Linked DNA regions of Homo sapiens: region 1 is linked to region 2. Evidence: fine-mapped expression QTL. A gene starts in region 2. The other region holds a variant in brackets. All regions are shown on one strand. Distances are from middle to middle. Region 1 overlaps CD244 (CD244 molecule). Region 2 holds the start of ITLN1 (intelectin 1).

Region 1 (5,384 bases), 28 kb after region 2:
CCCATCAGGAGTCATATGATGACAGTGAAATTTAAAAAACCACTTTGTTTACTGAATAATTTAACAGGAGTACTATTTATGTAAGATGTGCATATAACTCTTGAGCATTGCGAAATTCTTCCAAAGACTTCTTCTTTCATGCAGAGTAAAAGCCATGCATTTTACAATGGTGCGTGACCTGGCGTCCAAGACCCACTCCTCTTTGTCTCTCCTCTTGCTCACAGCATTTCAGCCATGTTGCCTGCTGGTCCTGGACCTCGCTCTCTGTTGTATCCACAGTTTTCTCTGCCTGGGATGCTGCTCCTTTGCTGGCTACATGGCCTCTTCCCTCAACCCCTCAGAGTTTTGCTCAAATACCTCCTTTTCAGTGATGCCTTCCCCACTGAAAATGTCAGCCTGCCATTCTGCAAACTCTTAGCTCTCTCTCCACTTAATTTTTCTCCATAGTCCTCATCTCCATTTATGTTCCATCCTGTTTACTTATGTTTTTCATTTTCTGTCTCCCAGTCTCCTCTTCAGCCCCCTAGACTGTAAGATCCTTGAGGCCAGGGCTTTTGTCTGTTTTGCTCACCGTTGTCTCCTCAACATCTAGAGCAGTACCTGCCACAAGTCAACCCTCAGTAGATACTTATTTTCACAATAGCAGCCCCCTCTCTGTTCCCATTCTTTCTCTGGATATATTTTGAATAGCTCTGAACCAGGGCTATTGAGGATTCAGTGGCAAGTAAGTCCAGGGCCCGTTTGTTCAGAGAGCTTGCGCTAGATTGCCTGAGTCACTGTTACTACAGTTGTGATTAGTGCCTGGTGCAGTGCCAATGCAGTAGGTGTTCAAAACATGTTTGTTGAGTGAATAAGTGAATTATTTTCAGGCATCTTAACGGGCAGCCTGGGATGTTTTTTGGGTTAGACATATTGGGAAGGAGGGATCTTCAAATCATTGCCCAGGGAATAGGCCTGGGCCCTAAAATTCATTTTAGACCCAAAATTCAGGTTTCAGTTGTCCGTTCTGAGGAAACCCCAAAGGACACACAGGCTGGAGGCTATGAATCCCCAGATGCTTTACAGCCTGAGTTGAGATCTGCTGGACAATAAAAGGGCACAGGTGACACCTTATAGATTAGCTCCAAGGGTTGCCAGCTGTTTGCGTAGATTGTGTTGGAACTGTCACTTCTCAGGGAGTGGTGTCTAACTGCGACTGCTTTGGCTGGGATCCAGGCAAGCTGTAGAAGGGCTGGAGTCGTTTTTGCTCTTCTCTTCCTCATTGCACCTCCCCTCCAACAAAGGGTGAATGGCAAAGTAGCTGGACACAGAAAAGAGATTGGAATTCAATGTACCCTGGGCTACAGCACCATCCAGAAAGGAATCCACTGAAATCACTTCAAGGAGAGACAGGGCATGTCTTGTTTTTTTTTTTAATTTTTTATTTTTATTTATTTATTTTTATTTTTTTGTGAGACAGGGTCTTGCTCTATCACCCAGGCTGGAGTGCAGTGATGTGATCACAGCTCACTGTAGCCTTGACCTCCTGGGCTCAAGCAATCCTTCTGCCTCAGCCTCCTTAGTAGCTGGGACTACAGGCATGTATCACCACACTTGGCTTATTTTTAATTTTTGTGTAGAGATGGGGTTTTGCTATGCTGCCTGGGCTGGTCTTGACCTCCTGGGCTCAAGCAATCCTCTTGCCTTGGCCTCCCAAATTACTGGGATTACAGATGTGGGCCACTGTGCCCAGCCAGGCCATTGTCTTCACAGACAAACCTCTCTTATTGAAGTGCAACATACAGAAAAGTACACAAAATTACAAATGTACATCTCAATGAGCTATTGTTAAATGAACACACTCTTGTGTCTACCACATGTTCTCTCCCATTCATTACTTCCTCTGTCTTCCATAAATATAGCCACAATTCTGACTTCTAACATCACAGATTTGTTTTGTCCGTATATATGGAATCAAACGGTATGCACTCTTGTGTCTGACTACTTTTGCTCAACATCTTATGAGATTTATGTATGTTATTATTTGTAGCAGATCATTTTCATGGCTGTATAGTATTTTATCGCATGACTATATCATAGTTTATTCACCTTTTCTATTATTGATGAACCTTTGGGTTGCTTTCAATTTTGTTTTTGCTATTATAATAATGCTGTGATGAGCCTTTTGTGCATGCATGTCTGTTGGGTATATCTCTAGGGGCAGAACCATGGAGTATGTGTACGTAACTCTAGCAGATGCTGTCAAACTGTTTTCCAAAGTGGTTGAACCAAATAGTGCATGAGAGTTCCATGCTGCTTTGGGGCCACTGGCTTTTGGTTCTGAAGGTCTGCAGATGGAAAATTAAATTGTGGAAATGTGGAGCTTGGCAAGAGGCCAAAGGCAAGGGAATTACAGCTCTGTGATTTCTCTGGTATCCTGCATGAAATTCTGACAATAGAGTCATTTTTAGGAGTTATGTGAGATGCATTGTTGAATTAATTAATTTAAACGGATTCATGAAGCCCTTGCTTGGGTTGTTCATTTTGCTGTTGTGACGTTTGAATTTCTTGTCTATTCTGCATATTAGTTGCCTGTAGGATTCATAGTTTGCAATTTTTTT[TC/C]CTATTCTATTGGTTGCCTTTTCACTCTGTGAATTGTTTCCTTTACTGTACATGATTTTTTTTTAGTTTGCTGTAATACCATTTGTTTATTTTGCTTCTGTTGCCTGTGCTTTTGAGGTCTTATTCATAAACTCTTTCCCCAGCCCTTATTATGCTCCAAGAACTATGCAAGGTTTTGTGGGGGAAACAAAGATGAAACAGATGTCTATTCTACCCTTAAGAATCTTTCAGACAGAGGAAAATGGGTATGTATAATTACAACTATAAGGGAAGATGGAAATGCTATGTGTCATTAACAGGCAAGATACATTTAGAATAAAAAAGGAGCTAAGAAGATGAAGATTCCTTCTAGGTAGGAACACTGGGGAACTGGCCTTGAAGAATAAATAAGAGTTTAGGAGGTAGGTACAAAGTAGAAGGACAATTGAAGCAGAGGAAACAGCTCAGAAAAGCCAGGGTTGCATGGGGTTTGGATGGGAAACAGGAAAGGGAGATGCACTTGTTATCATGGAGAAACAATATCACATATGAGATGATTTGGTTAACTGATGCAAAGAGTGGGACTTGGGCTAGGTGAGTTTTGACAGAGGTAAGGGAGTTGCATTGCCTGAGGAAGAGAGTTAATATGGTCAGTATGAAGCTAAATAGAGAGGAAGAAAGAAATGGGATGTGGGCCCTATAGGATACTTTATCTATCTTATGATTTTGCCCTGACTAGAGCTGGATTGCCCCAGTACTTTTGGAATCTCACTGGACTCTGTTCACTTAGTCCCCAGCAGGTACATCTTTTGATGCCTTCACCCCAAGCCTGGTAGCACAAGCCCTAGCTGAGAAAACCTTAACATCTATTTGTTGGCTGGTGGAAATTCCACTTGCTCTGAGACCCTCCCGTGCTCCTTCTCCCAGGTGCTCAGGCCCCACACCTTCCTCCGACTGGCAGGTCCAGGTTGGAGGAAGCTGAGCTGACTCAGAGCTCTGCACATGGGCTCAGGGCTGAGCGGGACTCACTGCTGGATCAGATTGTCTCCTTCACCATCCTCTGTACTTGTCTCCTTGACCATCCTCTGTTCTTCCTGAGGCTGCAGTGGAGTTAATCATCTGCCCTCTGCCCTCCCTTTCAGAGTTACTAGTTCACCTCATCCGTTCTTAACCACAGGAAGGTGGCCCCCAAAGCTGCTGAGCAGTAGCAACAGCAGTGGCAGGGGCCCGGGGGCCTTCCTGGACTGTGGCCTCTTTCCTCTAAACAATTTTCACTTGTTGGGTCCTCCTCTATGCCTCACTAAATGTGTGAGAACTTGTGTTGAAGTTATGTTTTCGTAGTAGCATTTCATCTCCCCTATCTGGTGTGTGTACCCCTCTGGGACAGAAACTGAGGTCTTTCTGTATCAGTCACAATACCCTGGACATAGTGACTTGTCTACTTGCCTTTTCACCGTATCTGCTTTGCACCCCTGCCCTGGCACCCACCCCTTCCAGGCCGTCCATGGAAACTCATTCCAACCATCTTCCTCCTTCCCACACTGGACTGTTGGGGGCTGCAGGAGAAAATTCAGCAACAAAGAGCAGCTACAGATTCGTAATCTCCAACCCCAGCTGGACTCTCAGTGTCCTGGGAATCCTCATTTCTGGCCCACAGCTTCTCCTGTTCCCCAAAAGGTGGGAGAATTCCACACCTTCGTCATCTCTTTCAAGGCCCTGTTCCACTATCTCAGCCTCCACAAACCAACAACCTCCTTCTTTAAGAAAACAGAAGCACAAGTTAGGGATTCCACCAACCTTGCCAACAAGTCTCCAGTGTCAATGTACTTCATCTACTCCTGTAAATGGCCACATTTGCCTCTGCTGAGGGCAAGAGTGTTCTTGCCCTGTCCTTGACCAATACTCCCCTGTGTGCTCAGGGCACCAGAGCTTCTTTCAGAAGTCACCTGGGACCTGCTGTCTGTGAAGACATCCCTCATCTTTCTTCAGCTGCTCCTTTTCTGTGGGCTTCCTACCTTTAGTACAGTTTCCTTCCAGTTGAAAAATCAAAACAACACCTGGTGTTCTCTCTAGCTCCTTTTTATTTGCAGACAAACCAGTCTTAAATGTATAAACTAATATAATATTACATAAAAATAAAATATAACGGCCTAATTTTTAAAAAGACCCCAAAGGCAGTATAGCATGAGGACTGTAGATCACACATTTCATTCTTTAAGTATTTAGAAGTCTATGGCTGGGAGTGGTGGCTCACGCCAGAACTTTGGGAGGCTGAGACGGGTGGATTACTTGAGGTCAGGAGTTCAAGACCAGCCTGGCCAATATGGCGAAACCCTGTCTCTACTAAAAATACAAAAAAAAAAAAAAGAATAGCTGGGGGTGGTGGCAGGCACCTGTAGTCCCAGTTACTCATGAGGCTGAGACAGGAGAATCACTTGAACCTGGGAGGCAGAGATTGCAGTGAGCCGAGATCATGCCACTGCACACCAGTCTGGGTGACAGAGCGAGACTCTGTCTTAAAACAAACAAACAAACAAAGAAGTCTAGACAATAACTTAACCATTTTCCTGTGTGATTCCTATTCAGTTTTATAATAGCAGAGAACAACCTTCTTCTACATAGCGCTCTACATTCTGATCTACTGGTGGATTATATGGGAGTTTACGTTATTTTTCATTACACCGTATATTTATATTTAAGTACCTTTTAATACTTGTGCTACCTCTCACAATTTTATAAAAGATAAAAATAAAGTGAAACCACCACTAAACACCTGAAAATTAAACTCATGTTCCATCACCCCA
Region 2 (5,384 bases):
TGTGGTGGTGTGTGCCTGTATTCCCAGGTGCTTGGGAGGCTGAGGTGGGAGGATCACCTGAGCCTGGAAGGTTGAGGCTGCAGTAAGCTGAGATTGTGTCACTGCACTCCATCCAGCCTGGGCAACAGAGTGAGACCCTGTCTCAACATAAATAAATAAATAAAATAAAATAAAGAGAAGCTGCTGTCAAGCAAGCCTGGATCTTGCCCTCTCTCTCGATTTTCTATTTCATGAGGTAATAGATTTACTTTTTAGAAAAGCCACTTTGAGATGGGGTTTCTATTAGTTACAGCTACAAGGAACCAGACTGAACTAAATAAATGTCCAGGGCAGTGGGGTTTGGAGGAAGTTGTGTGGGGAACAGATTCAAGAGGAAGTAGGGGTAGAATCAATGGGACGCAATCACTGATTGGATGATGATGGTTAGAAGGGGTAATGTCCTTAAAATGGATGTACTGTTTTCCCAGTCTATTAGATGGCATCATGTACCATTAAGGATGAGATGCATAATGATATTAAAGATGTCAAAATACAAAAAAAGTGTCTTAGAATCAACTAAAGAAAGTAGTATAAGTGTATATTTTCTTTTTTTATTTTTGCAAATATGTTACTGTTTTATTAAGCCATAAAGTTTTCAGGTGGTTAGTTACACACAGTAATGAACAACTGAGGGGATGTTTAATTTTTTTCTCTAGATCTTGGGCCCTTGGTGTTAACTTTATATACATGTATTTACTATTGTGAACTGTAAACTTAGAGACCTCTATTTTTTTTTTTTTTTTTTGAGATGGAATTTCACTCTTGTTGCCCAGGCTGGAGTGCAATGGTGCGATCTCAGCTCACTGCAACCTCTGCCTCCCGGGTTCAAGCAATTCTCCTGCCTCAGCCTCCCGAGTAGCTTGGATTACAGGCGCCTGACACCGTGCCCAGCTAATTTTATATTTTTAGTAGAGACACGGTTTCACCGTGTTGATCAGGCTGGTCTTGAACTCCTGACCTCAAGTGATTGGCCACCCTCGTCCCCTCAAAGTGCTGGGATTACAGGTGTAAGCCGCAGCGCCTGGCTGAGACCTCTATTTCTAAGAGGTTGTTGTTTGTAAATATGAAAGCTGGGTATGTTCATTTTGTTACCTATACTGATGAGTTAATTTAGTTTCTAATACATTTAATTTTATTTAATTAATTATTTTCCAGATACACAGAGCAAATAGCTTCTAATAGATTTTAAATTTACAAAAGTATAACTTTTTTTTGCAGTTTTTCTTCTTGGGTGCTATTTTATTTTCTTCTATCAATATGTGAGTATTTTTTGCAAATCAGTACTTTGAACCAACAAATAGGAAATATTAGCTTAACAAAAAAGATATTCACAATCTTTGTAAGAAAAGGTTGCAGTATTATTAATGCTATAATGACATTATGTATTAAATGTATGATATCACTGGGGAAGAACTGAGTAATTCTATTACAGCTGCAGGGTAGCATTTGAGAACTTCATGACATAGGAGCAGGAATAAGACAGGAGGTTCGAAGCAGCAGAGAGGTTTCGTATTGATTCAGTTTCAAATGAATCCTGTAGTAAATTTTCCCTCGTTTGTGGCAAAATGACAAAATTAAAGACAAAGTAGTGAGTCTTTGTGTGAAACTAAATTATTCAAACTAAAGATTTATATATTTTTTAAAACTTTTCTATTCGTATTTTTTTGTGTGTTTTGTATCTCTTTCCCCTCCATTCCTTTTTACCAATTTATTCAGAAATGATCACTTTCCCATTTTGTTAAAATTTCCTTTTTCTATTTCTATGAATTGATAATTATGGCCAATGATTAATTTCATTTATTTATTTATTTTGAGATACCTAAGCTGAAGTACAGTGGCACGGTCATATTTCACTGAATCCTCTATCTCTGGGACTTAAGTTACCCTTTTGCCTTGCCTCAGCCCCACCTGAAACTATAGGCAAGTACCACCATGCCATGCTAATTTTTTTACTTTTATTTTTAGTAGAGAAGAGGTTGCCCTATGTTGCCCAGGCTGGTCTCAAACTCCTGAGTTCAAGTGATCCTTCTGCCTTGGCCTCCCAAAGTATTGGGATTTGAGCCAATGTGCCAAGCCAACAGATGCTTAATTTAGAGAAAGTTTTTATTTTGCAAGAAAGAAAGGCACAAAAACCCAAAACCAACACCAACTCTTGTTAATCTCTTCGTCTACTTCCTACTTGACACAGGTCCATGAAACCCCCAGATCCAGGAACAACGCTAGCAGGTGATTCTTAGGATTGGTTTTTTCTTTAGAACCTGTTAATTCCACTGTATAAATAACCTCCCCGAGATAACCAGAAGCCTCCCCTGCACTGGGCATTGTGCCAGGGGAGGGTGAGGCTGGAAACCTTGGTTGGCCCCACTGGGCTTCCTCCATAAAGCTTTCTGCACCTCATTCCACATCAGGAGCGTTTTTGGAGAAAGCTGCACTCTGTTGAGCTCCAGGGCGCAGTGGAGGGAGGGAGTGAAGGAGCTCTCTGTACCCAAGGAAAGTGCAGCTGAGACTCAGACAAGGTCTGTGAGTTGGGGGAATCCTGTTTTCAGCTTAGGTCTGCTTTTGGTCTCAGAGATGTGTGAAGTTTAAACAAAAGGCAAGGGGTTTTGGAGTCTTTGTAAGACTGGACAGGGGTGGGGCAGGGATGTAGAGAAAAATGATGGCCAAGATGGTGACCTTCATCTTGCTTTCTTTAGATTACAATGAACCAACTCAGCTTCCTGCTGTTTCTCATAGCGACCACCAGAGGATGGAGTACAGGTGAGTCACGCTGCTAGGGACAGCAGTTCCTTCAGCTGGATGACTTCCGGGATCCTGGTCTCTCCCAGGACACAGAGCATGTCCTTGAGATGCACAGCGGCTGGCTTGCATGTAGACTGAGTGCCGATTTCTGGTCTCTGGCGGAATCTGGCCTGTGGCAGTGAAGGTATTGCTTGAGGCATGTCCTGGGTCCAGGCTCTGTGCTTTTGTGTGGCCCTGAGGGGGCTGTGGCAAGAACTGTGTCACCTTCCAGCCACTGCCCACTCCTGTGGCCTTGGCTGTGGGATTTCCATGGGAACTACATGGTCTGCTTTGTGCCTGGAGAATGTTCTCTCCACAGTTTTCCTCTCTACAACAAGAATAACAATGACATTTTAAAATTTATATTTTTCTTCACGTCTAAAAATTTTTTTTTTAAAGAAAAGGCTGTTTCGAAATATCTTCTTACTTCATCTTTGCAAAAGCACTGTTTATTAACTGTGTTTTAGGTATGAGGAAACTGAGGTCAGTCACCTCTGACCTCACAGCTTTCCCCTAGACTGTTCGAATAGTTTGCAGACTTTTTGGAGTAGAGATTAGTCTCACCACTCCCTACTTCACACCCCATGTTTCAGCCATATTAAGCAGCTTGTAGTTCTACAGCTGGACTACGCTGTATTTTTTTTTTTTTCTCTAGGCCTTTGGATATGCTGTTTTCCCTGCCTTGGATTGGCTTCCTACTGATAAATCATGTTTATTCTCTCAGAATAAGCTAAGATGTCACCTGGACTGGAAGGTCTTCTGTGACTAAGACATGAGACAACCCGTCTTGCCTTCTTCTCCCAGGCAACTGCCCCGCTTACTGTCTGGCGTTTCCATTCTCCACTGTTACCTCAGAGTCTTTCTTTTGTTCTCTTGAGTTTGCCTTTCTTCTACCATTTATTCTTGTCAATACAATTTTCTGTTGACTTGTTAGCAATTCCCTCTAGAGGCAAGCTCTTGCTGGGGAACTTTAATGTCTTTGATTACTCAGTGCTTAGGGCAGGACCCAGCACAAGGACAGGTCTTGTGGCGGGAGGCAGACTTTAAGCCTGTGCTGGCTGTCAGGTCGGATGGGCTGAGTGGATATGATGCCGATGGGCTGAGTGGATGTGACACTGATGGGCTGAGTGGATATGACACTGGCTGTCTCAGGCCTTACCACCCGGGCAGCGAGGTTCTGCTACAGTGGTGGAATGAGCGTGGGACTAGTGATAGGAGAGGGTAGGTTTTGTGTCAAACCGGGAATGAGAATAAACCCTGTGTATTCCCTAGATGAGGCTAATACTTACTTCAAGGAATGGACCTGTTCTTCGTCTCCATCTCTGCCCAGAAGCTGCAAGGAAATCAAAGACGAATGTCCTAGTGCATTTGGTGAGTGATGAAACATTCAAACAGAGCTCAGTCAGGGTATCAGGATTGTGTCTTCTGGGAGTCTTTTTGTCTTTTAGTTAAAAAATTATGGTAAAGTATATGTATATTATAATTTACATAAGATTTGCCATTTTAAGCAACATTAAGTGTGCAATTCAGTGGCATTAATTACCTTCAAGGTTGTGCAACCATCACAGCTATCCATATGCAGAACTTTTTCAGTGCCCCAAACAGAAACTCTGTACTTAATAACATGGAGGGGCCGGGTGCGGTGGCTCAGGCCTGTAATCCCAGCACTTTAGGAGGCTGAGAGGGGTGGATCAGTTGAGGCCAGGAGTTTGAAACCAGCTTGGCTAACATGGTGGGGCCCTGTCTCTACTAAAATACAAAAATCAATTGGGTGTGGAGTACATGTTTGTAATTCCAGCTACTTGGGAGGCTGAGGTGGGAGGATCGCTTGAACTCAGGAGGCAGAGGTTGCAGTGGGCCAAGATAGTGCCACTTCACTCCAGCCTGGGCAACAGAGTGAGACTCCATCTCAAAAACAAAAACAAAAACAAAACAAAACAAAAAATAACATGGAGTTATTAAGCAATAACTCTCTTCCCTCAGTCTCTGGTAGCTGCATTTTACTTTCTATCTCCATGAATTTGCCTAGTGTAGTTACCTCATGTAATTGGAGTCATATGGTATTTGTCCTTTGGTGTCTGGCTTATTTCACTTAGCACAGTGTTTTGAGGGTTTGTCCATGCTGTAGCATGGATATTTCATTCCCTTTTATCCACTGCAGATACATATATGCACACACACCATGTTTTGTTTATTCATTCACCTGTTGGTGAATATTTGAATTGTTTCTTCTATTTGGCTCTTGTGACTAATGCTGCAATGAACACTGGTGTAAAAGCATCAGCTTGAGGCCCTGTTTTCAATTCTTTTGGGGATAGACCTGCAGTGGAATTGCTGGGTCATACAATAATTCCATGTTTAACTTTATGAAAAATGTCACTGGGATTTTATACAATTCTATGTTCTGCCTCAGTTACAGGAGCATGATCTTCTGAACTCAGGGAGGCCCCAGTACCCCTGGGAGCACTTAGTGATGTGAGTCAGGACAGGAGCCTTTAGGCCATGTCTCTGGTTCCTAGGGCCTTTCTTGTCATGGGGCTGAAATGAACCCTCAGCTCTCAGACAGG

Evidence for each region. PIP is the estimated chance that this variant, and not a neighbour inherited with it, causes the effect. A credible set is the group of variants that fine-mapping cannot tell apart.
Region 1: its variant is the best candidate, but not a certain one, in a credible set for the expression of ITLN1 in whole blood (INTERVAL, PIP 0.66).

The regions. Positions count from the first base shown.
Region 1 is chr1:160,854,115-160,859,498 of GRCh38, reverse strand. The region is part of intron 1 of CD244 (CD244 molecule); the gene reads left to right. Among named protein-coding and RNA genes, the nearest start is that of CD244, 6.1 kb to the left of the region's middle. RefSeq lists an enhancer at 4,062-4,111. The variant TC/C (reference allele first, on the strand shown) is at 2,601.
Region 2 is chr1:160,882,232-160,887,615 of GRCh38, reverse strand. It overlaps ITLN1 (intelectin 1), which reads left to right and starts at 2,436. Exons shown (of 8, transcript NM_017625.3): 1 at 2,436-2,555; 2 at 2,733-2,796; 3 at 4,090-4,188. The coding sequence starts at 2,739.